7 linked regions of the Homo sapiens genome follow. The protein of the gene in region 1 purifies or fractionates together with the protein of each later gene. This does not show direct contact. Each region holds a gene or a part of one and is shown in the gene's direction. Other genes may lie near its edges. The genes, in order: METTL2A, PREPL, TKT, ACACB, PC, NDUFAF5 and TOP3A.

Region 1 (3,500 bases):
TGTATTAATGGCATCATGCTGTACCTGTCACATGCCACTGCATCATACAGGTGAAGGAGCTCAACATGATCATGCTATAACTCTGGAAAAAAGTCCCAGATCAGAAGAAATTGTTGCTTCTCTTCTAATACAGTTACAGGAATGGAGAGGGTAGTTAGGATGGTGCCTGTTTCTTAGGCCTGGGATAATTCTCTTCCTCTGCATTTGGATGGTGTTGCAGAGTCTAGACCTGGAAAAATGTCTAGATTGGTATAATGTAAATTCATAAATGGGGACTGCGCACGTTACTGGAAGCTGGTTCTGGAACTGGTCAGCCTTGGGATTGAGTCCTATGGTGTGATCTTAGACAATTTCCTTACCCTCTCTGAGCAGTGAGACTGCTGCCTCTGCACTTTATAGTTATGAGGATGGAGATAATGTATGTAAAAGGGCTAAGAACAGTATCTGGCACATAGTTAAGCCCTTAATAAATAGTTGCTGTCTTCATTACCACGCAGCACTGTGTTTAGGACAAGGTTGTCAGGGTCCCCTTTTCATACATTTTTCAGCACAGTCTATTACAAATATTTTCACAATAATAATATAAGCTCAGTAAGAAAATACTTCATCTACAGGACCATTTGCTAGAACTCAAAAGATAAAAGCAATCCTTGCCCTTTTTTCTAGACCACCTCGTTTCTGCTAATAAAAACCCGTGCTCTTGTCTTTTAAGGGTTCCTGAAGTCAACATCAAAATCAACAAATGTCATGAGTACTGTTTAGCTCTGGTCACTACACCTTCCCTAATACAGTTAGGCCAGATTCTTGTTGATTATTATTTTTCTAGCTTTTCTAGCTTTAGGGAATTAACTCTGGAAAGTTCTGTGATTAATAGTTCATTTCTGTCTGCAGGTTGGCTGTGGTGTGGGAAACACAGTCTTTCCAATTTTACAAACGAACAAGTAAGTATGTTGTAAAAGTTTATGATAGCAAAGAAGATAAAAGTGAAGGTTGGCTGGGCGCATTGCTTCACGACAGTAATCCCAGCACTTTGGGAGGCCAAAGCAGGATTGCTTGAGGCCAGGAGTGTGAGACCAGCCAGGGCAATGTAGCAAGAAAAAAAAGTAAAGGTTTTTTCAAAACTTGCTGCATCAAACTATCAGTAATGGTTATTGGAAAATATGGATTATGTCAGATTCAGATTTCTACATTGTTCATTTATGGATTGTTTTAATTTGATTATCTTTGTCATTTGGAAAATTAGACTTAAAACTTGCTAGTGTTAACATTTAGCGCCTTCTTCTTCTTCTAAGGAACAAATGTGTTCAACTTTTCCATTCTCATGATCTCTGAAGAACAGTCAGTGGCTGAGTTGTCATCACCCCCATGGTAGAGTTGAGAAAGCTAACATACATGAAGATGTCTCCTGTTCTGATGAAAACACACTGGTTTTGTGTACTTAAACAGAACGCTTCTGACACCAAATGTGCGGGGTTTTTGCCAACACTGACCAATTCAAAAACAGCTGGGTGTCCTACAATTCAATTCTGACACTGTCTACTTGGAGTTGGTGTCAGATCCCACAAGTTAAGGGTTCGGTCCCAGAAGACTGCCCCCCACTTCAGATGCCAGTTGTGAATCTGGCCCTCCGTGTTTCTGCCCTACAGGCTGTAAATCAGGGTAGCCCTATCTCCAGTTCAATAATTTCCTAGAATGGCTCACAGAACTCAGGGAAACACTTTACTTACATTTATGTGTTTGTTATGAAGGATACAGATTAACAGCCAGCTGAAGAAGTAATTAGAGTGGGGTTCAGAGGATCTCACGCTCAGGAGCTTTGACCCTGAGGAGCTCAGTGCAGTGTCCTCCTAGCACACGGATGTGTTCACCAACCTGGAAGCTCATCAAGGGGTTTTTTTTAGTTTTGAGACAAGCTCTTGTTCTGTCATCCCGACTAGCGCACAGTGGTGCGCCCATAGCACACTGCAGGCTCAAACTCCTAGGCTCAAGCAATCCTCTCACCTCAGCCTCCCAAGTAGCTGGGACTACAGACACATGCCACCATACCCAGCTAATTTTTGTTTATTTTTTGTAGAGACAGGGTCTCACTTTGTTGCCCAGACTGGTCTCAAACTCCTGGGCTCAAGTGATCCTCTTGCCTCGGCCTCCCAAAGTGCTGGAATTACATGCATAAGTCACCGTTCCCAGCCTCAAGAGTTTTTATACAGCTAGGACACAGACTCATGGGAAAATTAATTTTAAAAGGAGAAGAAGAAAATAGTTTTCATACAACATAATCTGCATTTCTATTCAGGACATTGGTGGGTGAAGCTGAAAGTTCCAATCGGTTTGCCCTTACTAGTGTTGGCCCCACCCCAGGTCATCTCATTAAATTCAGTGTGGTCCTGAGGGAGTTCATTATGAATAACAAAAGATACAGAGTCTTGCTTCATCACCCAGGTTGGAGTGCAGTGGCACAATCTCGACTCATTGCAACCTCCGCCTTCCGGGTTCAAGTGATTCACCTGCCTCAGCCTCCCTAGTAGCTGGGATTAAGGGTGCATGCCACCACACACAACTAATTTTTATATTTTTAGTAGAGACAGGGTTTCACCACATTGGCCAGGCTGGTCTCAGACTCCTGACCTCAGGTGATCCACCTGCCTCGGCCTCCCAAAGTGCTGGGATTATATGTGTGAGCCACCGCGCCCAGCCTGCTGAGGAAATTCTTAAGGTTTTTGGAACTCTGTGCCTGGAACCACAAAGACCAACACCAGATATATTTATTATACCATATCTGTTTTGTTTTGTTTGAGATGGAGTCTTGCTCTGTTGCCCAGGCTGGAGTGCAGTGGCGTAATCTTGGCTCACTGCAACCTCTGCCTCCTGGGTTCAAGCGATTCTCCTGCCTCAGCCTCCCAAATACCTGGGATTACAGGCATGCGCCACAATGCCCAGCTAATTTTTGTATTTTTAGTAGAGATGGGGTTTTGCCATGTTGGCTAGGCTGGTCTCGAACTCCTGACCTCAAGTGATCCACCCACCTCAGCCTCCCAAAGTGCTGGGATTACAGGCGTGAGCCATGGCTCCCGGCCCTATAGCTGTTTTTAAACCCCTTGTGGAAATGACATTCCAGTTCTGTATGCATTACTGGAATCCACTGTTTCTCAAAGGTTTCATATAATATATACTTTGCCAATTTAGCCCACAGTATTCATTAACAGGATTAAGTAAAACATTAGCCTCATTACTAATATACACTTAAATATTTCTACAATTTGTTCTCAGAAATTTCTAAGAAAATGGCAAGTCCTAGTAGCTAACACTGAAGAAAAGAGATTGTTCTGCTCTTGAAGTTACAGTCTGAGGAACCCACCTCAAATGGGAGATTGACTTAGCTTCAAGTTATGGCCATTAATTATCAATATCATCAATGCATGTAAAATAATGTAGATGGCATCTTTGCCACAGCCTCTTTATGCCATTTAAATAAGATCGCTGTGTTCAATATCTTGCTAGAA
Region 2 (3,194 bases), on another chromosome or scaffold:
TATATTCATAAAATAGAATGTTTTTCTGAAACTCACTTACCAACCTCTTACTTGAAGTATAAGTTTCTTTGCCTTTTTTTTAGGCACCTTTCTTGGATGTTCTCAACACCATGATGGACACTACACTTCCTCTGACATTAGAAGAATTAGAAGAATGGGGGAATCCTTCATCTGATGAAAAACACAAGAACTACATAAAACGTTACTGTCCCTATCAAAATATTAAACCTCAGGTAGTGAAAGACAATTGTGTTAGATTATCCTGAATTTACACAGAAGATAATAAAAAAAAAACTTATCCAAGCTGAAGCAAAAATAGGAGCTTTAGAGATGTTTCTACTTATGATGCCCAAATATCTTCAGCACCATCTCTGCTCATGCTCCATGTTTAATACCTCAGGGGAATAGACTTATCATGCCTTAATTACTAAATTAGCTAAGGTCCTTTAGTCAAGAAAAGGCTATTCCAGATAACAAGTAGTCTACTACTGTAATACTGAGGCGCTCTCAAGATAGCAAGTGAGAAAAAGCATAGAGCACTTACAGGGAAAAATTGGAGGTAATTATTTTTCATAGTCTCTATAGTGGCAAGGGACCATAAGAAATAATGTAAACTCTTCGTGCATGTATTTTCTTTCAGCATTATCCTTCAATTCACATAACGGCATATGAAAACGATGAACGGGTACCTCTGAAAGGAATTGTAAGTTATACTGAGAAACTCAAGGAAGCCATCGCGGAGCATGCTAAGGACACAGGTGAAGGTAGGAGACCCCCTAGAAGCAGGGAACATGGCCAAACAGACTACTACCCACAGCACACTGCTCAGAGGAATATATTTCAGGCTGTAGCCAAATCATCTGCCCAGGATTTAGGGCAAACAATTATTTTGCTATGTTGACTCCCCAGTTAAAGTGTACGTAACTACATGTCTATACATACACTGCCTCACCTCTTTTTCAAAGGACAGTATTAAAATAGATAGGCAGGACACAAAGGAAACAGGAAATTTAAGAATCAGATATAACTTGGAGATGCACTGCCATACAATTATTAATTCATTTAACAATATTTATTGAGCCGTTATTCTTGGGAATCTCTAAAAGACAGATTCTGAGATTTTTGTTTTGGGCCATCAGTGCCCAAACTGTTTAGCTGCATGAATTTCCTCTAGCTAGCTGTTTCAGCTTTATGAGATAAGAATCCCTCCCTTTTGCCTTGAAACTACATGCCATATCAGTCTCCCTGTATTCATCTCCATTTGTCACCCCCATCCATTGCTGTAGTTGGTGTTTCCAGGGCATAAGACTCTCAGATTCCACAGGGCAGGTTGATGATCTCCTGGGTTTCAACCTTGTCCGTGTGGCACCATATAGTCTTTTCCATACGGCCTCTTCCTGCTTTCGCTGTGTCAGAAGTTTGTCTTCTGTTGCTTGTCCCCTCCCATCTTTTTGTTGATGATGGTGGTTTTTGCTTTTTATTCCTTTACTATTATTTGAACTGAGTACTCAAAGAAGAGGGGAGGAATGGGTCTCGATCTTCCAAAGAAGATCCCATACAATCTTCTAATTGTTCTACATGTTAACTCTTCCAGGCTATCAGACCCCTAATATTATTCTAGATATTCAGCCTGGAGGCAATCATGTAATTGAGGATTCTCACAAAAAGGTATGTTATCAAGGCCCTCTCAGTGGACAGATTCCCGAACTAGATACATGTTGTTTTCACATTTTCAGTGGTTGCAGCAGGTTTATGACAAAGCCACTTCACAAATGTCCTATCTATGGGTGAGACCCAGGAGGGGAGGGAGGGACACTGTGTCAATCAAGAGAAATGTCTCTCTCTTGTACTTGATACGTGAGCTCTGTTAAAGAAAATAATTTAATCTTAATTGTTGGAAGCCTTCTGCCTCTCTCTCGAATGAAAGTATTCTTGCCATAAATTGCTGACTTCACGGTTAGGTAAAGATGGATAGATAAAGAGAAGCTTAAACAGTGGCATTTTACTACAAAGGCCTTCTATTTAATTTTTTTAATGTGTTTCTTTTAGATTACAGCCCAAATTAAATTCCTGTACGAGGAACTTGGACTTGACAGCACCAGTGTTTTCGAGGATCTTAAGAAATACCTGAAATTCTGAAACACTGCATTCAACTGGGAATTGGAAACACACTGAAATATTTCATAGTCTTACTTCCAATTGAGTTAGCAAAAAAAAAATTAATAACTTGAGACTTTTAAGTTATTAATTTTTTAAAATGTGCTTCTCCATCTAAATTTTGCTTAGTCTACATCTCACTTGCTTATACTATTCTCTCCATTGATGCACATGCCCATTAACCTAGGAAAGTAATTTTCAAATCATGCTCCTTAGAAGGATGTGGAGTAGAGGGAAGGGAAGGATTGGTGATAGCAGAGCTCCAGGCCTCCCTTCCAGTCAGAACAGTTGAGCAGTTTACAAATTAGTGTCCTGCCTCTTTGCTAGCAAATGCTTTTAGACACTGTGGCAGTGAGTCATCCTCTAATTTCTATGACTGCATTTTAAGGGAAAAGATAAAATTCTTCCCCTTAAAATTCGTTAAAGTTTTTGAATAATCTGGGGTCCTAATGTGTTCTGGTCATCCCTGATTGATGCTATCTGAATAAAGTTATAAGCTCCTATAAGCCATAATTTACTTTTAAACATTTTATTTTTTTCAAAACATTTGAGAACCTTTCTTAAAGCAGTTACATTCAAGCTACAGAAATATCGAAGAATTAATGATTGTTCACCAAGCAGCATGCTGTACATGAAGCTATTACAAATGCTTACAATCCCACTGAAATGCCAGTGTCTTCATCTCTTCATAAAGGTGCCTAACACGAGGTATACAGTATGTTCAGTACACTGGAATAGCATGCTCGATTGGAAACAAAGCATCTATCTCTGAAAGCTGTTTGGCGATGAAGGAGATTCTTCGTGTTGTGTTCAAAGATGAGTCCCTCTCCCTTGTCCAGAAAAATGCCACTTGTATCAACTTTACTGCCTTTGTCGGCAGAATTGGTACTTAACCTTATTCTCATTTTAGCGGGAAGGCCCGAAATCATATTATGTAGATTTAACAGTGTTGATTCTCCAAAATTCAGAACCACGATAAAGATTCTGTCGATGCCATCCAGCTCTCTTGTGTACACAACATAGTGGCTGTCATTCCT
Region 3 (3,500 bases), on another chromosome or scaffold:
CCAGATATTTTCAGTTGCCGTGATTCTGAGGATCTGATGCCCCTGGAAAGGTACAACAGTCCCCAGCACCCACTAGCTGGCCCAGGCCCCAAACTGCCAGGAGTGGCCTTCTTGAGACCATGTGTCACCCTCCCAGGGAACAAGAGCTCGTGGCTGTCTGATAAGCCAGGCCTGTGTGACTCCTCAGGACATGCACCCCCAGGTCCCTGTACAGCTGAGCACAATAGCTCAGGAGTGCAGGGCCATGATGCCTGTGTCTGTCTTCTCTCCTGGGCCACAGCCACCCCACGTCATGCTGCAGCGCCGCAGAGATCATGGCTGTCCTCTTTTTCCACACCATGCGCTACAAGTCCCAGGACCCCCGGAATCCGCACAATGACCGCTTTGTGCTCTCCAAGGTAAGAGCCCAGCTGCCCACTGCCAGCCACACCTTGCCTGGGACTAGGGTCACACGGGCCCTGGAATGGTGAGTGGTCTTTGAGGAGACCTGGCTGGGCCCACCTCTCCCAGGTGCCTTCTCCCTGCTCGTCCTGGCCTCTCCCTCAGTGTCCTGCTCTGTGCTGACCCAGCTGGCTAAGGAATACAGGACTGAATTGATGGGTTGCTCTGCCATGGAGCCCAGGTACATAAACAACGCTTTAACTCAAAGAAATGGAGTAGGGGACTACGGAAACATCTGTTGTGTGTTCTGCCCAGTCTGGGTGTTGACAGGCAGGACTGGCATCTCGGTCTGGGTTGTGGCTCCCTACCTGCTCTATCTGTGTTGTGCCAGCGCTCCCGAGGCCACGGCTTGCCCCCTCGGGGTGGTGGTGTGCTGTAGCAGGGTTTTGGATGGGGACCCCCTGACCCCCCCCTTCTGGGTGGAATCACAGCCACAGATCCCTGAAATCCACCTGTGCTCAGGCCTGCCTCCGTGGCGTTTGGTCTCTCGGGCAGGCTTTAGAGCTTAGAAGTCTGTCCAAGTTGTTCCCATGCCACAAACCAGGGATTAGGGCAGCCGGCTGCCTGCTGGGGTTTTGGCTTCGTCCAGCCTCACAGCTGTGCCCCCTGCACCTGTCTTAGTGCCTGCCTGGCCTTGGCAGTGGGAACTTTGGGCTGAAAACCAAGAGGCTGAAGAGGGCTGAAAGGGGAGAAGTGGCCTTCACTTGCTTCCTCCCCTGAAATGGATGCTGCAGTTGGCCGGCTCGGCCGGGCCCCAGGGGTCAGTGTGAAGTAGGCACAGCCCGAAGTAGAACCGCTCCCCACCTGACCTCACCCCACCATCCATCTCCCGGCAGGGCCATGCAGCTCCCATCCTCTACGCGGTCTGGGCTGAAGCTGGTTTCCTGGCCGAGGCGGAGCTGCTGAACCTGAGGAAGATCAGCTCCGACTTGGACGGGCACCCGGTCCCGGTAAGTGCTCCTGCCAGAGCCTCCCATGCCTCTGCCTCCACTTCCTATTTCCCAGACATGTGGGACGGGGGTAGGGGGTGCCCACTGAGAAGCCAAAGGTGTTGAAAGGCGGAGGAGGGCATTGAGTTGAGGAAGGAAAGAAGCAGGTGTTTTGGGGACACGTATTCAACCCAAGCTGGTGCCAAAGGGGAAGGCCTTCTGAGGCCTCAGCCAGGGTGCTCTGGGATGACTTCAGGGAGGGCCTCTCCCCAAGCTACCCTTCTGCACTGGGCCTCCTTGGCTAGGTAGCTACAGCTTGGGAAGAGAGGGGACTCGATAAGGGAGTGGCTGCAGGATGCTGGCGAAACCCTGGGGAAGGGACCCAGTTTGTTCCTTGGGGTGCCATCTGGCATCCCTGCAAACGTTAAGACTTCATGGATTACCACAAAAACTGTCACATGGTCTGGGTCCCCACGAGGGGCAAATGTTCTGTCAATTTTTTCATGATTCTCTCTCCCAGCACTTTGTGAAGTGGGTGATGTGGGAACTGAGGCTCACAGAGGTTCAGTCCCTTGCCTGAGGCCTGAGGCCACATAGCTGGCTAGTGGGCAGGGCTGGGATTTGAACCTATAATTATAATTAGTTCATTAGGAGAAGAAGTCACATGCTAGGTAGAGGCCATCCTGGGGCCTGACCTTCTGCAGAGGAAGGGCTTGCTGGGCTGGGTGGGAGTGTGGCTCCCTAGGCGGGTGAGACCAGGATCCCTTCTCCTCTCAGATTAACGGTGGCCTTCTGTTATGACAGAAACAAGCTTTCACCGACGTGGCCACTGGCTCCCTGGGCCAGGGCCTCGGGGCCGCTTGTGGGATGGCCTACACCGGCAAATACTTCGACAAGGCCAGGTAACACACCTACTCCCCACCCCCAACCTGGGTAGTTTTGGGGAGTGGTCCTTGGGTGACCCACCCTTCACCATCGCCCCCAGACTCTTCCTCTTTCCTGGCTAGGGCAGAGTAATACATATGCGTGGCCTCTTTTGCTCTTTAAACATCCGCTATGGCTGGTGCCATGACCGGCCCCCTTTACAAATGAGGAAACACTCAGGAGTTAAGGGACCTGCCCTGGGTCCCTCAGCAGTGACTGGCAGGGCCAGGTTTGCACAGAGTGCGTGCTCTCAATCATGTGCTCTTCAGCCAGAGTGCTTAGGCTGAGGACTTCCTGTTTTGCCCCCAGCCCTGTGCCCAGACCCCAGAAGTCTCAGAAAGACCCACCCCCAGGCCCCTGTCTGACTAGGCACCAGGAGCCCAGGCCTGAGCCACTTGCCTTTATCTTGGTAAAGGGGAGGGTTGTATGTTCTGAGGGGTTCTGGGATACCTGTAAGCCACCTCCTATCAGCAGGGAAGAAACAAACATTTGAGAGATTGAGCCTTCAGAGGGTGGGTGATGAGCCTGACCAGAAAGGTGTGCTGCTCTAGCGCCCACCAGGTGATTTGTAGGAACGGCCCCCCAGGAAGGTTCTAGCCATAAGTTTGTCTGCGGTGGTCAGATATGGCCTGGGGGGATGAGGTTGTAAACTGTTAAGAATAATGGCTGGCTGAGGGAAGGATTGCTTGAGGCCAGGAGTTCCAGACCAGCCTAGGCAACAGAGCAAGACTCTCTCTACAAAAAATACAAAACTTAGCCAGGCATGGTGGTACACACCTGTAGTCCCAGCTACATAGGAGGCTGAGGTGGGAGGATCACTTGAGCCTAGGGCTTCAAGATTATAGCTATACATGATTGAGCCACTGCACCCTAGCCTGGGCTACAGAGCGAGACTCTGCCTCTTTAAAAAAAAAATTATTCTTTTTTTTAAAGAATAATCACTGTATTAGTCTGTTTCCACACTGCTGATAAAGGCATACCCAAGTCTGGGGAAGAAAAAGAGGTCTAATGGACTTACAGTTCCACATGGCTAGGGAGGCCTCACAGTCATGCTGGAAGGTAAGGAGGAACAAGTCACATCTTATGTGGAAGGCGCAGGCAAAGAGAGAGTTTGTGCAGGGAAACTCCCGTTTTTAAAACCATCAGATCTTGTGAGACTTATTCACCATCACGAGAACAGCATGGGGAAGACCTGTCCCCATGATT
Region 4 (4,163 bases), on another chromosome or scaffold:
CACTGAAGCTCAGCCATTTGCTCAAAGTCATGGCTAATGGAGGGAGGATTCAAACCCACATCAGCTTGATTTCAAAGCCTAATAGTCCTGCCACTGTCAACACCCTGCCTAGATCATGATTATTTGGAATCACTGGGAAAGAATTTTTTTTTCATGAAGTTAGAAGCCTAAGAATTTTTTTCAATGGAATTTTATAAAAATGTCCTTGAATCACAGATGGCTCTCCCTGGAAACATAGGTTTGTTTGAGAGTCACCTCTTTTATTGTCTTAATAAATAGACTAAGAGCCATCACAAGGGCTACTGTGGCTAGAGAACATATGACTCGGGCCGGGCATTGTGCAGGCATTTGACCTGCATTCCTTCACCCCGGTTCCTGTAACATGTACCTGGTGCTGTGGGGTTACAGCTGATAATGCTGAGGTTTCCAGAGCACATGCTTCCAAGTCCAGTGGAGAAAATCCCAAGAAGTCCAATATTCAATGACTGTTCCTTATTGCAAAATAAGCCCAGAAACAAAGTAGCTGTGAACAGGCTGCACCAGCCCCAGCAGCAATTTCCATTTAAACCATTTTGCACAGATCCCGTGCTCAGCGCTCTCGCCAGTTTCTCCACTTGCTGTTTAGTAAGGCCATCATTGTTGGCAGGAAGTGGGTTCCACCTTCCCTGTTGCCTGAGCACAATGTGCTCCTATGTGGTCTCCACTTTCCTGCTGCCTAGTTGGCTGGGCTTCTCCAGCTGGGCCTTGGAGGCGACCTTTGTCCCACATGCCAGCCCTCCCCACGTTGCAGAACACTATGTAACTGCAGCGTGTGCTGAATTTCCTCTTCTGTGCTCAACCCTAGCAAGAGCCAGTCAACCCTGAATGAGAATGTGGCAATGGAGCTGTTTTTTTCTTTTATCCCCAAGTCACAAGAAATTGGAAACATTCCATTAAGTGGCGTGATTTGAGAGGGTTTCGCCAAATCTTTTCAGGGGAGAGAAGCCAGGTGACCTGATAGCGATCACCTTCCCATTCACGGTTTTCAATGGGGGCTTGTTTCTCAAATGACCAACACCTGTAGGCAGTTAATTTTCAGCATGTCACAGGAGGGCCCAGATGACTTTCTGCCTACTGCTTACGACAACATGGACTTTAGATGCCTCATGGCTTCAACAGCTAAGAATTATGAAATAAAGCGAGTTATGGGATTAAAAGGCAGATAGCAGAACTCTCCCAGGAGTAGCCAGGGCTGCACAAGTGGTTTGACGTGGGATCTTTCTCATCTTTGCCCCGGGTTGTTGCTGCTTTGAAGGTTAAGTGCTCCAGGGATATTTTTAAACAGCAGGGGCTGATTAATCTAAAAGTGACATTTGCAGTCCCCAGAGTAAGCAGCTAGCAGGCTTAGATTCAGGCCCTCAGCAAACAAGGAACCTGGAAAATGTAACCCTGAATGCACGGTGGGGAGGACATGGCAAGAGAAAAGCGGCAGGAATAAAGTGGTAAGTCAGCTCGCCCCTCCCCGGGGTCCGGACCATTCTGCCAACGTCCAGGTAAATTCGAACCCAATGTATAGTGAGAGCAGACCCTGTCTGAAGGCATGCACTTGGGGTCCCCGGGGAAAAACGACTCCCGTCATGTTTGAAGGAAGCTAATCAGAAGAGCTCGAAATGTAACGCAGATGAAAGAGAAGGGCCTTTCTTTGCTTCTATAAATGGTGGTGTGGATCCCTGGACATGCTCCCATATAAGTTCCACAACGTTTTATAAACAATTCTGTTTTTTGCCTCCAAAGCTACTGTCTTAAGGAATAGTATTCTGTTTCTGTTTCCTCAAATGGTTGTTCTTTTTTTTTTTTTTTTTTTTTTTAAAGCAGACTAAGGCTGGGCACGGTGGCTCATGCCACCCAGCACCTTGGGAGGCAGAGGCAGGTGGATCACTTGAGGTCAGGAGTTCGAGACCAGCCTGGCCAACATGGCGAAACCCCATCTGTACTAAACACATAAAAATTAGCCAGATGTGGTGATGGGCACCTGTAATCCCAGCTACTTGGGAGGCTGAGGCAGGAGAATCGCTTGAACCCAGGAGGTGGGGGTTGCAGTGAGCTAAAATTGCGCCACTGCATTCCAGCCTGACTGACAGAGCAAGACTCTGTCTCAAAAAAAAAAAAAAAGAAAAGAAAAAGAAAAAAAGGAGACTAAGAGTAAAGCGTTTGTAGTGGTCCTATATCCTATATTTCTAGGAAGACATGACTTTCTTTCAATGTTGAAAAAATGCATTCCAAAATAATATGCAAGTTAAAAAGTCACTCAGCACCGTGCAAAAGTCTCCTTGCTGTTATTCCTGTCTAACCCTCCTCCTCCAGGTAGCCACTGTGCACATTTTGGTATAAACCCCCCAGACCTTTTATTCTGTACACTCACACTGTACACAACTCTCTCCCTCATGTCTATTGTGATTACTTTTATTTTTTAATATCAATGGGCATCCATATAGGTTGGGTGACCAACCATCCCACTTTGCCCAGGACCGGGGAATTCCCGGGACATGGGACTTGCAATTTAAAAACTGAAAGGTGAAGATATTATTATTATCATTATTATTTGAGATGGAGTGCTCACTGCAAGCTCCGCCTCCTGGGTTCACGCCATTCTCCTGCCTCAGCCTCCCAAGTAGCTGGGACTACAGGCACCCACTACCACGCCCGGCTAATTTTTTTTGTATTTTTAGTAGAGACAGGGTTTCACTGTGTTAGCCAGGATGGTCTCGATCTCCTGACCTCAAGTGATCCGCCCGCCTCGGCCTCCCAGAGTGCTGGGATTACAGGCATGAGCCACCGCGCCTGGCCAAAGATATCATTTTATAAATTGCATGTTTCTGCTAATAGTGACATGGAGTTCTTTACAAGATTTCTTTTTATGACTTCTCCAAGTTTTAAGTGGAAAGACCCAGCCAATCCTAATTCATGTGATTTAGAGATGAAAATATCTCTAATCTGTAACTTTCTTTCAGAAGCTCTTAAGAGTTTTATTTGCTCCTGCTCAGGTGTTGTGTAAACTCGCTCATACTTTCAACACCTTTAGGTCTGAGACAGAAATTTGAGTATTACATTACATGAGATACCCAGTCTTCATGGGGAAATAAACATTTTAATCTTTTGAAATGGAGGTTTCCTTGAAGTCTTATCCCAGTAGAAACTTTGACCTTGTTCTTTTTTTTTTTTTTTTTTTGAGACAGAGTCTCGTCCTGTCACCCAGGCTGGAGTGCGATGGCACAATCTCAGCTCACTGCAACCCCTGCCTCCCAGGTTCAAGCAATTCCTCAGTCTCAGTCTCCCGAGTAGCTGGGATTGCAGGCAAGCACTACCACGCCCAGCTAATTTTTGTATTTTTAGTAGAGATGGGGTTTTGCCATGTTGGCCAGGCTGGTCTCGAACTCCTGACCTCAAGTGATCTGCTCACCTTGGCCTCCCAAAGTGCTGGGATTACGGGCATGAGCCACTGCACCCGGCCTGGAATACCTTGTTCTCATGCTTCCTCTGAATTTGTGATTCAGTGACTTGTTACTTCAAAGTAGAGTTCACCTGTACCCAGGGAAACCAGGAAACAGAGTTAGAAATATTGCATTTGATCGGAAAAATGTATGCACATTTCACATCCTATCCTAATAGATCTCTCTGTTTGCAGTGATAATAGTAAATTTATGACCGTAGAGTAAGGTGATTTTCTAGGAAGATAGACCGTGTTCATTTATTCCAGGAATCCAGGGATCCTTGTATCAGAGAATCCAGGCTGGGCACAGCAGAGAAACCAAGGTATTGATTATTGGGTAGTTGGCATACCCCAGGTATGCCATAATAATTATGGGATCTCACATAATTTTGAGGACAATCCTAGGAAGGAGATTTTATTTATTCCATTCCACAGGCCAGGAAACCAAGGTTCAGAGAATTTCCATGATGGGCTCAGGCCAATCAGATAACAAATGGCAAAGCCTCCACCCAAGTCTGCTGTACTCCAGAAGTCCTGCTCTCTGGGCTCATACCTTAGCCACTCTGACCCTTGCTGGGGCCCCAGAAAACAACTACACATAGAAAAGGTCTCTTCAGGCCAGACACAGTGGCTCACGCCTGTAATCCCAGCACTTTGGGAGGCTGAGGAGCTAGATCACTTGAGGTCAGGAGTT
Region 5 (3,500 bases), on another chromosome or scaffold:
GGCAGTGGGGAGTGAGTGTGGTGTGGACAGGGGAGGAGAGCAACAAAAATGACCTGTTTACCCACAAACCACGGGTAAGTGCCCCTGTGGTCGCAGGGTAAACCCACCCAGGTGGGAGGAAAGGACTGGGGCTCCCTGGAAAAAGCTTGAAACTGCCCTGGAGGTTTGAGAATCTCGGTGCCAGTGGGCTGCTGCCAGCTGTGAGGCTGCTCACCTATAGGCAGGCCAGCAGGTGAGGAGGGGGAGGGTGCTAGGCTCCTGGGAGACACATAGCCAAGTCCTCCCACCCAAGGAGTCGGTGTAGCAGGAGCTCCCTTCGCCTTTTCCTGCGGAGCTCTTCCTGTCCCTTCTGTATATTTCTTCTTTTTTTTCTAATTATAAATAACGCATCCCCAATGGAGAAAATATGGAAATTTTCCATATGGAAATATAGAAAAGCATAAAGAAGGAGGAAAACACAACTCTACAGCAATTCCATAGCACGTGGGAGTGAGGAGGGTGGCATGCAAGCAGTCCTACAGTTGTTGCCATTCCTTTAAAAAAACTTCATGAGATCATGTTGTTTACCATTAAATTTTCTTGGCTTCACATTACATCACAAGCATTTCCCATGTCATCAAAACCTGTGCAAACACATTATTGTTAATGGTTACATAATGTCTGTGGGAGCCAGGGTGTGGAATCTTTAAATTGCTTCTCATGATTTTCTGTTGTAAATAATGCTGCTTTGAACATCTTTCTGCGTACATCTTGGTTCCCATTTTGGAATATTTCCTGGGGTTGGATTTCTGGAATAGTAATGACTGGGCTCAGGGGCATAACCCGCCACCATGCCTAGCTAATTTTTTTGTATTTTTTAGTAGAGATGGGGTTTCACCGTGTTAGCCAGGATGGTCTCCATCTCCTGACCTCGTGATGCACCCGCCCTGGCCTCCCAAAGTGTTGGGATTACAGGCGTCAGCCACTGTGCCCGGCTTTTTTTGTTTTGTTTTGTTTTTGAGATGGAGTCTCGCTCTATCACCCAGGCTGGAATGCAATGGCGCGATCTCGGCTCACTGCAACTTCCGCCTCACAGGCTCAAGCAACTCTCCTGCCTCAGCCTCCCGAGTAGCTGGGACTATAGGCGCCCACTATCATGCTGGGCTAATTTTTGTACTTTTAGTAGAGACGGGGATTCACCATGTTGGCCAGGGTGGTTTTGAATTCGTGACCTCAAATGATCCGCCTGTCTCAGCGTCCCAAAGTGCTGGGATTACAGGCGTGAGCCACCGCGCCTGGCCGGGCATAAATACCTTAAAGGCTCTTGATAAGTTTTGCAAACAGCTTCCCGGAGAAGCTGCCGTGATGCTCAGCAGTGCCTGCGGGCCGCCTCCTGAAGGCCTTCCTGGCGCTCAGCACTGCATTTACAAAGCTCCCAGGCAGGAGTGGCACCTCATGGTTGTATTTTGAATCTCTTGCTTTCTCGTGGGTTCAAGAGCCACTTGTGTTTGCTGTCTTGTTGCTGTGCTTGTCCCGAAGGCTCCCCTCGCCTCTTCCTGACTTTGCCCTATGTGGTAACTTGAGCTCTTTTGACATGGCCTTTCCCAGCGCTCAGCAGAGTAGACATTTGGTGCCCAGGAGGAGGGTGAGATTTACACCCCACACCTGCTCTCTGATGCCAGTGCCGCCTGCTCCCAGCTGGGAAAGACCTGTCCTCCTAGTGGGCAGCATCCGATAACTCGCCTGGAGCAGGGCTTAGAGGATTGTAGATCTGCATGTGGGAGATAGCAGGGTGATAACGTCTGACGTTCATCCTGCTCTGAGCAGGGTGTCTCCACACCTGAGCTCCTCGCTGGTGCTCCCGGCACCTCTTGAGCAGCAGGTGCTGGGGCATGCACTCCCTAAGGTTATCTCCTCCAGCGGCATTAGCGGTGGGTATGGTTCTTTTCACTTGTCAATTTGAAATGATTTCAGACTTTCAGTAAAGTTGCAAGAGTAAGACAAAGAATTCTCGTACCCCTGACCCCAGTTCCCCCAATACTAGCATTTGCTTCATTGTTCCCGTTTTTCCCTGAACCATGTGAGTGGGTGTAAATTGCAGATGTGGTGCTCGTGGACCCTTGAGTTCCTCAGTGTTTTTCCCTAAGAATGAGGCTGTTCTCTAACATAACCACAGTCCACTGATCAAGATCAGGAAATTGATATCAACGCAATCCTCTTTCAAACCTGCAGACCTTATTTAAATTGTATCGTTGTCCCCTGATGTCCTCTTAGCAATAGAAACCCGGATCCAATCCAGGATCGTGTGTGGCTCTCACCATTGTTGCTTTGGTCTCCTTTCATCTGAAACCGTTCTTGCGTCTTTGTCTCTCACGACCTTTGACATGTTTGAAGAGTCCAAGCCAGTTATTCTGTGGAATTTCCCTGAATTTGAGTTTGCCCCTTGCTTTCTCCTGATTAAATTCAGGCCGTGCACGGCAGCGGGAACCCCATCAGGAGGTGTGTGGTATCCCTTCGGTGCTAGTGATATTAACCTTCATCTCTCGGTCAGCGTGGTGTCCGCCAGGTTTCTCCACTGTGCAATGAATAAGGACAAGGTATATTTTAGAAAGAGGAGGAGCCCAGAGTCCAGCAAGGTTACTCTACCCACGTTCACCATAGCCGGGTGTGACCTGGGTGCCTCCTGGTCACCGCAGTGGCCCCTTCCCAGCCCCCATCTTACCCTGCCTCTGGGAGTCATGCTCTGCCCAACTCGCGCCCCATCCTCCTGAGAGCCGCTCGCTTCTGCCCAGCGACCCGTGCGTCCCTCCCTCCTCCAGGCATCCCCCCTGGGCTCCTTCTTGGCTCTTCCTCCTCGGCCAGACTCAACTCCAGTGGGCCTGAAGACGCAGGCCTGACCCACTTCTCCCAGGCTGTTCTCTCCCTGGCTTCAGACACCACCGCCCCTGTGATGCTGCCCAGGTTCTTGTCCCTGCTCTTCCCCCTCTGTGAGCTTGCCTCACTCCCAGCCCTGCCTTTTCTGTCTTGCCCTTCTTATAGCAGGAAAAGTCATCTCCACCCACCCATACAGGATTTCTTCCTCTACCTTGCTTTCTATGGGGGGTCTCTCGACGAATCTTGTCTGTCATAGCCCAGATGTTTCCTAAGCCCCACCCCGACCCCCATAGCTTCCCCCTGTCAGAGGCTCCGCGTCTCTCAGCTCAGCCTCTGAATTGCCCCAGACATGCGTCGTCTGTCAGCCCCTGCTGCTCGCCAGTCCAGAGAGATCCTTTCCACTGTGCATCGATCATGTCCCTCCTGTCCTGTCCATGGCTGAAGGGAGGCCTCAACCACTGGGCCCTGTCTGTGGCTGCAGCCCCACCTCAGGCCGTGGGCTCACACTTCCCTCTCTCAGGACAGCACCAAGCCTGTTCTTCCTGAGAACTTCACAATTGCTATCCCTTCTTCCTGGAGCTTTCTCTGCGGATCTGTGCGTGGCCGACTTCTCCCCATCCAGGTCCCAGCTTCTGTGTCCCCTCCTC
Region 6 (3,027 bases), on another chromosome or scaffold:
AAACACAGCTAATTGAGGACCCTTATTGTTTAATGTGAGTGATTGTAGTGAAAACACTTATTTTAGTGTGTATAACACTAGTGAAATTATTTTTGTAGTTAAATCTGCTGGAAGTGTGCTATTAAGCTTTTATTGTTTGGAGCCCTCAGGAAACTAATTTTTCTGAATAACCACATTTTCCAAATGATTAAGAGCTCATCCTTTTAAGCAATGAAACTTTTAAAAGGTCTTTATCAAAAATTTTTCATAAATGTTACATTCTTAAATGGTATATGATAAATAATCATCTTTTTTGTTGGTTTATTTTTTTATTTTTTATTTTATTTTATTTTTTGAGACGGAGTCTCGCTCTGTCTCCAGGCTGGAGTACAGTGGCGCAATCTCGGCTCACTGCTGCCTCCGCTTCCTGGGTTCAAGTGATTCTTCCTGCCTCAGCTTCCCAAGTAGCTGGGATTACAGGCGCGTGCCACCACGCTGGCTAATTTTTGTATTTTTAATAGAGATGGGGTTTCACCATGTTGGCCAGGATGGTCTCAATCTCTTGACCTTGTGATCTGCCCACCTTGGCTTCCCAAAGTGCTGAGATTACAGGTGTGAGCCACCAGGCCTGGCCAATAACCATTTCTTGATAACCCCACAGATAATATCATAAACTCAAGTTGTCTGTATTGCTTCTTCCCAGACTGGTCCCAAGAATGCTGTGGTTGGTTTTGTGTCTTTTCCAGCACTTTTCTTACTTGCTGTCAGTTGTCAATCTCAACACCTTGACCAAAATGAACTTTCTTGAGTCATTTCTTCTCTGTTTAGCTATAAGATTAGAATTCATACTGAAAGATTTCTAGGACTTTTGTATTAAGGTAGGAAAGAGGAACTAGGTTCTGGGAGAAAGACTCCTTTGGAATAAAATTCATGAGCTTTATTGGTTCCTTTAACAGATCTTCATTGAGTTTCATGTGCCAGGCATCCAACTAGTCTCTGCTTTTATAGTTGTCAGTCTGACAGGGCTCTAGTATGTGCACACCGTGACACCTGTTGGCTGCCAGGAGACTGTTTGGCTTATTTCCTGGTTCTTAGCAATATTCCAGGTTGGCCTGGAGAATTCCAAAGGTAAATATGAAAATGTATACCTACAAAAGAATTTTTGCTTTATAGGAAGAATTTGTAGGATTTATTGAGATGTAAGCTACCTATATACATCAAGTATGTGATATGATTGTAAAAAGTTACAGAAGTGTGTGAGTCATGAAGTACCTGTGAGGGAAGTTTATATATTTTTTCAAACTCTTTTAGTACCATTTTCATCCACTAGGTGGAAGCAATTACAGTATGACCTGCATTAAAGACATGTACAGTTTTTTGGCCGGCTGCAGTGGCTCACACCTGTGATCTCAACACTTTGGGAAGCTGAGACGGGAGGATTGCTTGAGCCCAGGAGTTTGAGACCAGCTTGGGCAACGTGATGAAACCCTGTCTCTACAAATAAAAAAAAAATTAGCCAGGCATGGTGGCACAAGCCTGTGGTCCCAGCTACTCAGAAGGCTGAGGTGGGAGTATTGATCGAGCCCAGGAGGTCAAGGCTGCAGCAAGCTGTCGCACCACTGCACTCTAGCCTGGGCAACAGCAAGACCCTCGTCTCAAAAAAGAAAAAAAAAAAGTACAATTTTTGTATTGATTATGTATTCCTTAAGTAGGAGTGGAATAAAAGTATTTTACCGTGGATTGGCTTCTGTGAAGGAAAGAAGTGAATATTAGTAGATATTTGGAAAAAAGAAAGATAGTTGATGCAGTGATTATTATTCTGTTCCTTTGTAAGTTACCATTAGCCTCTCTTGCTTAAGAAATATTTTGAGCTTTTTTGGGGAGGGGTTGTGGTTAATGATGTGAAATTAATCTTCAGGAAATTTATCATAAGCAGACTTGCCTTTTCAGATATTGGTATATTTTAATTCTCTACCTGAATACATACATGACAGTTATTTTACCATGCTGGTTTAAAAAACATCAATTTGAAAATACTAGAAGGTGGGGTGAACACTGATAAGTTACTGTTAACAAATAAGAAAATAATGCTTTGCCATCTGTGGTGGTTTTAAAATCTATCCACAAATTTTTGATATGCTTCTCTTTAAGACGGGACACTTCATTCCCCTCTAAGTACAGGCTGAGTTTAGTGATTCCCTTCCAACAAATAGATGGTGTGTCACTTCTGAGACTAGGTAATAAAAGGCATTGCATCCTCCTTACTCTCTCTTGGATCCTTCACTCTAGGGAAAGCCAGCAGCCATATTGTAAGGCCACTCAACTCCATGGAGAAGACCTAGAAGTGAGGAGCAGAGGCCTCCAGCCAAAAGCCATGTGAGGGAGCCATCTTGGAAGCAATTCTCCAGGCCCAAACTTCAGATGACTGTGGTCCCAGCCAATGCATTGACCACAACCTCATGAGAGACCCTGAGCTAGAACCACCTAGCTAAGCCACTCTCAAATATCTTATCTACAGAAACTGAGATGATAAATGTTTGTGGTTTAAGCAACTGTGTTTTAGAGTAATTTGTTACACAGCAATAGATAACTGATACGCGATACACTGTCTTCAGGAGGTGTATTAGGGTGGGCAAGGTATTCTGAGTTGTTATTTTCAGCATAAAACATAGCCCCCTTATTTACAATTAGGTAAAGTTAACATAAACTGTATTACTTTTGTTCTCAGAGAACACCAGACCTGAAATGCTCTTGCCTGGAGGTTTGATTCCATGATATCTTGAAATGGAACTAACTTCCCACATTAAGTTTAGTAGGCCTCAAATTTTCTTTCCTGGGAATATTAGGATAAATTTTTTGGAAGCCTCGATGGGCTAATTTCCAAATGAAATCAGAGAATTTGGGAAGACCATGAGAATTCAGTGAGCTACATAACTGCACACAGATTCTTCAGCCAGTTCCCTTCTGCCGTAGCTGTTGAGTTGCGACAGCTCATTAGGATGGACTGTTGACACTGCATACTTGTTACCAGGCTCACAAATGAGTACA
Region 7 (3,500 bases), about 44 Mb from region 1:
CATTTTAATGATTTGGCAGAATAATAACTGCAAAAAGACTAACTGAATTTTGAATTTTGTCATCATTCAGAATGTTACCATGGTAATGACTTCAGTTTCTGGACATTTACTGGCTCATGATTTCCAGATGCAGTTTCGAAAATGGTCAGTACAATTCTCAAGGGAAGGACTTTCAGATTATAGTAAGTTGTGAAATTTCACAGGAATTTTGAGGCATGTTGATCTTACTGGGTAATTTTTTTTTTTTTTTTTTTTTTTTTTTTTTTTTTTTGTTGGAGACAAAGTTTCAGAGTGAGACTCTGTCTCCCAGGCTGGAGTGCAGTGGTGTGATCTCGGCTCACAGCAACCTCTGCCTCCTGGGTTCGAGTGATTCTCCTGCCTCACCCTCCCGAGTAGCTGGGACTATAGGCACGTGCCACCACACCTGGCTAGTTTTTGTATTTTTAGTAGAGACAGGGTTTCACCATGTTGACCAGGCTGGTCTCGAACTCCTGACCTCAGGTGGTCTGCCCACCTCAGCCTCCTGAAGTGCTGGGATTACAGACCGTGAGCCACCATGCCCGGTTTTTTTTTTTTTTTTTTTTTGAGTCAGGGTCTCGCTGCGTTACCCAGGCTGGAGTGCAGTGGCGCAATCTCGTCTCACTGCAACCTCCGCCTCCTGGGTTCAAGCGATTCTCATGCCTCAGTTTCCCAAGTAACTGGCCTTACAGCCATGTGCCACTACACCCAGCTAATTTTTTCTATTTTAGTAGAGATGGAGTTTCACCCTGTTGCCCAGGCTGGTCTTAAACAAAGCAGGGTTTGCCTTCTTTTGCCTCCCAAAGTGCTAGGATTACAGGCGTGAGCCACTGTGCCTTGGTAATTTATTTATTTATTTATTTATTTTATTTATTTTTTGAGACGGAGTTTTATTCTGTCGCCTAGGCTGGAGTGCAGTGGCACAATCTTGACTCATTGTAACCTCCACCTCCCGGGTTCAAGCGATTCTCCTGCCTCAGACTCCCGAGTAGCTGGGACTACAGGTGCCTGCCACCACGCTTGGCTAATTTTTCGTATTTTTAGTAGAGACGGGGTTTCACCGTGTTAGCCAGGCTAGTCTCGATCTCCTGACCTCGTGATCCACCCACCTTGGCCTCCCAACGTGCTGGGATTACAGGCGTGAGCTACCACGCCCAGCAGTAATTTATAATACTAAGATGACCTAGGATTATCTGATCCATTGTGAATTTTTATTAAATCTTTAAACAGTCACTTTTGGTGTTCCTCAAAATTGCCAGACCTTTTTCATGCAGCCATTGGATTGCATTTACCTGTGAAAGGGCTCCAGAATGCCATCTTATCAGTCCTGTTCACACTCTTGGAGAAGTGGACAGTGTGTCATGCAGAGGGTCATAGCCTTACTTTCAATTCACCGGGACCTTTTCTTTTGGGGATACACCATGAACCCATTGGAACAGTTTGCTGTCATTAGATTGGAGGGCTCTCTGTCATGTACTGAGTTGGGACTCTGTTTTCATTTCTTTTCTAGGCAGAGCTGCAACCCTCTTGTCCTCTTTGAAGCAGAAATTGAAAAGTACTGCCCAGAGAATTTTGTAGACATCAAGGTAGGGTCTTTTGGAAGACATATGGCACTGAGTCAAACCACAGAGTCAAACAGAGTGATTTCTTTGTTTTTAATGCATTGGCATTTGGAGATAAGGTTTTCCACCAAAGTCACTACCATGATTTAAAAAGCTGGTTCCCACCCATTGTATAAATGTGGCTAAGTGGCCAAGGGACTGAAGTAAACTTTTTTTATGAATGGTAGTTGTTTAAATCCTAGGAATAAAGGCTGGACATGGTGGTTTATGCCTGTAATCCCAGCAATTTGTGGGGCCAAGGCAGGATCACATGAACTCCAGGAATTTGAGACCAGCCTGGGCAACATAGTGAGACCCTATCTCTCAAAAAAAAAAAAAAATTTAACCAGGCATGGTGATGTATGCCTATAGTCCCAGCTACTAGTAAGGCTGAGGAAGGAGGATTACTTGATCCCAGGAGGCAGGAGGTTGAGGCTGCAGTGAGCCGTAATCACACCACCACACTCCAGCCTGGTGAGAAAGTGAGACCCTATCAAAAAATAATCCTAAGTATTGTAAATTATTAGCGCGTAGCCCCCATCTCACCCCTTGTTAGATGAAAGAGGCTACAAAGTATAAATGCCTGTTTGACAGTAAATTGCCAGTTGTCAAGCAGTCAGGGCATGTATAGTTAATTTATTTTTAATTTTTATTTATTTATTTATTTATTTTTTGAGACGAAGTCTCGCTCTTGTCCCCCAGGCTGGAGTATGATGGTGCAATCTCAGCTCACTGCAACCTCTGCCTCCAGGTTCAAGCGATTCTCTTGCCTTAGCCTCTCAAGTAGCTGAGATTACAGGCGCCTGCCACCACACCCGGCTAATTTGTGCATTTTTAACAGAGATGGGGTTTCACCATGTTGGCCAGGCTGGTCTCGAACTCCTGACCTCACGTGATCCACCCGCCTCAGCCTCCTAAAGTTTTGGGATTACAGGTGTGAGCCACCGAGCCTGGCCAGTTAATTTATTGAGAACTGATAAAACTTTGGATGAAATTCAATTGGGATTCATTTTGTTTTGTTTTGTTTTGTTTTGTTTTGAGATGGAGTCTTGCTCTGTCACCCAGGCTGGACTGCAGTGGTGCGATCTCGACTCACTGCAAGCTGCGCCTCCCGGGTTCATGCCATTCTCCTGCCTCAGCTTCCCGAGTAGCTGGGACTACAGGTGCCTGCCACCATGCCCGGCTAATTTTTTGTATTTTTAGTAGAGACAGGGTTTCACCGTGTTAACCAGGATGGTCTCGATCTCCTGACCTCGTGATCCACCCACCTCGGCCTCCCAAAGTGCTGGGATTACAGGCGTGAGCCACCACGCCCAGCCGGCTTCGTTTTTTTTAACTAGGTCATAATCAGAACCTCTCGAAGTGTGCGTGCGCGCGCGCGCGCGCGCGTGTGTGTGTGTTAGAGCTGAATTTCAGGTTTTGTCATATTGGGGAAGTTATATTAAACCCTCTATTCTAGAAACTCGTTTATGGTTCTAAGGGGTTGTATCATGATTAGCACCAATGAGAGCAGTTTTCTCTGTTCTCTTTCCCTTGCCAAGTTGTCACACTCCAAGAGCAGCATTAACCTTCAGTCAGATCCCCTTAGCTTAGAGATGTCAAGTCACTGTTGTGCAATTCTGTTCTCACCACTCTTATTCCACTGCGAACTTAAGAAAACTTTGGAACGAGAGACTCGCCAGTGCCAGGCTCTGGTGATCTGGACTGACTGTGATAGAGAAGGCGAAAACATCGGGTTTGAGATTATCCACGTGTGTAAGGCTGGTAAGTGCTGCTGCTGCTGCTGACTTTCTCTACTTTGGAACTCCATAAATAGAGTGTTCTTGTTTATATGTGCACATGGGCCACGGATGAGGTCCTCTGCAGGTACTCTCCCTCCCA

Evidence for each region.
Region 2: the proteins of METTL2A (region 1) and PREPL purify together in Homo sapiens (affinity purification with mass spectrometry; one large-scale study listed by BioGRID and IntAct). This does not show direct contact.
Region 3: the proteins of METTL2A (region 1) and TKT purify together in Homo sapiens (pull-down; one large-scale study listed by IntAct). This does not show direct contact.
Region 4: the proteins of METTL2A (region 1) and ACACB purify together in Homo sapiens (pull-down; one large-scale study listed by IntAct). This does not show direct contact.
Region 5: the proteins of METTL2A (region 1) and PC purify together in Homo sapiens (pull-down; one large-scale study listed by IntAct). This does not show direct contact.
Region 6: the proteins of METTL2A (region 1) and NDUFAF5 purify together in Homo sapiens (affinity purification with mass spectrometry; one large-scale study listed by BioGRID and IntAct). This does not show direct contact.
Region 7: the proteins of METTL2A (region 1) and TOP3A purify together in Homo sapiens (affinity purification with mass spectrometry; 2 studies listed by BioGRID and IntAct, with this or other methods). This does not show direct contact.

The regions. Positions count from the first base shown.
Region 1 is NC_000017.11:62,426,897-62,430,396, forward strand, and holds part of METTL2A (tRNA N(3)-cytidine methyltransferase METTL2A), read left to right. Parts: intron 1-891; coding exon 892-941; intron 942-3,500.
Region 2 is NC_000002.12:44,320,301-44,323,494, reverse strand, and holds part of PREPL (prolyl endopeptidase-like), read left to right. Parts: intron 1-83; coding exon 84-233; intron 234-640; coding exon 641-764; intron 765-1,057; exon of another isoform or gene 1,058-1,594; coding exon 1,595-1,668; exon of another isoform or gene 1,669-2,049; coding exon 2,050-2,139; 3' UTR 2,140-2,855; coding exon of another isoform or gene 2,856-3,194. Other genes in the region: amino acid transporter heavy chain SLC3A1, read right to left, coding at 2,856-3,194. UniProt on the Homo sapiens protein: Serine peptidase whose precise substrate specificity remains unclear. Does not cleave peptides after a arginine or lysine residue. Regulates trans-Golgi network morphology and sorting by regulating the membrane binding of the AP-1 complex.
Region 3 is NC_000003.12:53,239,023-53,242,522, reverse strand, and holds part of TKT (transketolase), read left to right. Parts: intron 1-280; coding exon 281-398; intron 399-1,277; coding exon 1,278-1,391; intron 1,392-2,174; coding exon 2,175-2,272; intron 2,273-3,500. UniProt on the Homo sapiens protein: Catalyzes the transfer of a two-carbon ketol group from a ketose donor to an aldose acceptor, via a covalent intermediate with the cofactor thiamine pyrophosphate.
Region 4 is NC_000012.12:109,115,224-109,119,386, forward strand, and holds the start of ACACB (acetyl-CoA carboxylase 2), read left to right. Parts: upstream 1-1,363; 5' UTR 1,364-1,481; intron 1,482-3,430; exon of another isoform or gene 3,431-3,561; intron 3,562-4,163. UniProt on the Homo sapiens protein: Mitochondrial enzyme that catalyzes the carboxylation of acetyl-CoA to malonyl-CoA and plays a central role in fatty acid metabolism.
Region 5 is NC_000011.10:66,874,884-66,878,383, reverse strand, and holds part of PC (pyruvate carboxylase, mitochondrial precursor), read left to right. Parts: exon of another isoform or gene 1-74; intron 75-3,500. UniProt on the Homo sapiens protein: Pyruvate carboxylase catalyzes a 2-step reaction, involving the ATP-dependent carboxylation of the covalently attached biotin in the first step and the transfer of the carboxyl group to pyruvate in the second.
Region 6 is NC_000020.11:13,819,054-13,822,080, forward strand, and holds the end of NDUFAF5 (arginine-hydroxylase NDUFAF5, mitochondrial), read left to right. Parts: 3' UTR 1-2,527; downstream 2,528-3,027. UniProt on the Homo sapiens protein: Arginine hydroxylase that mediates hydroxylation of 'Arg-111' of NDUFS7 and is involved in the assembly of mitochondrial NADH:ubiquinone oxidoreductase complex (complex I, MT-ND1) at early stages. May also have methyltransferase activity.
Region 7 is NC_000017.11:18,304,995-18,308,494, reverse strand, and holds part of TOP3A (DNA topoisomerase 3-alpha), read left to right. Parts: intron 1-70; coding exon 71-144; exon of another isoform or gene 145-182; intron 183-999; exon of another isoform or gene 1,000-1,022; intron 1,023-1,528; coding exon 1,529-1,604; intron 1,605-3,274; coding exon 3,275-3,383; intron 3,384-3,500. UniProt on the Homo sapiens protein: Releases the supercoiling and torsional tension of DNA introduced during the DNA replication and transcription by transiently cleaving and rejoining one strand of the DNA duplex.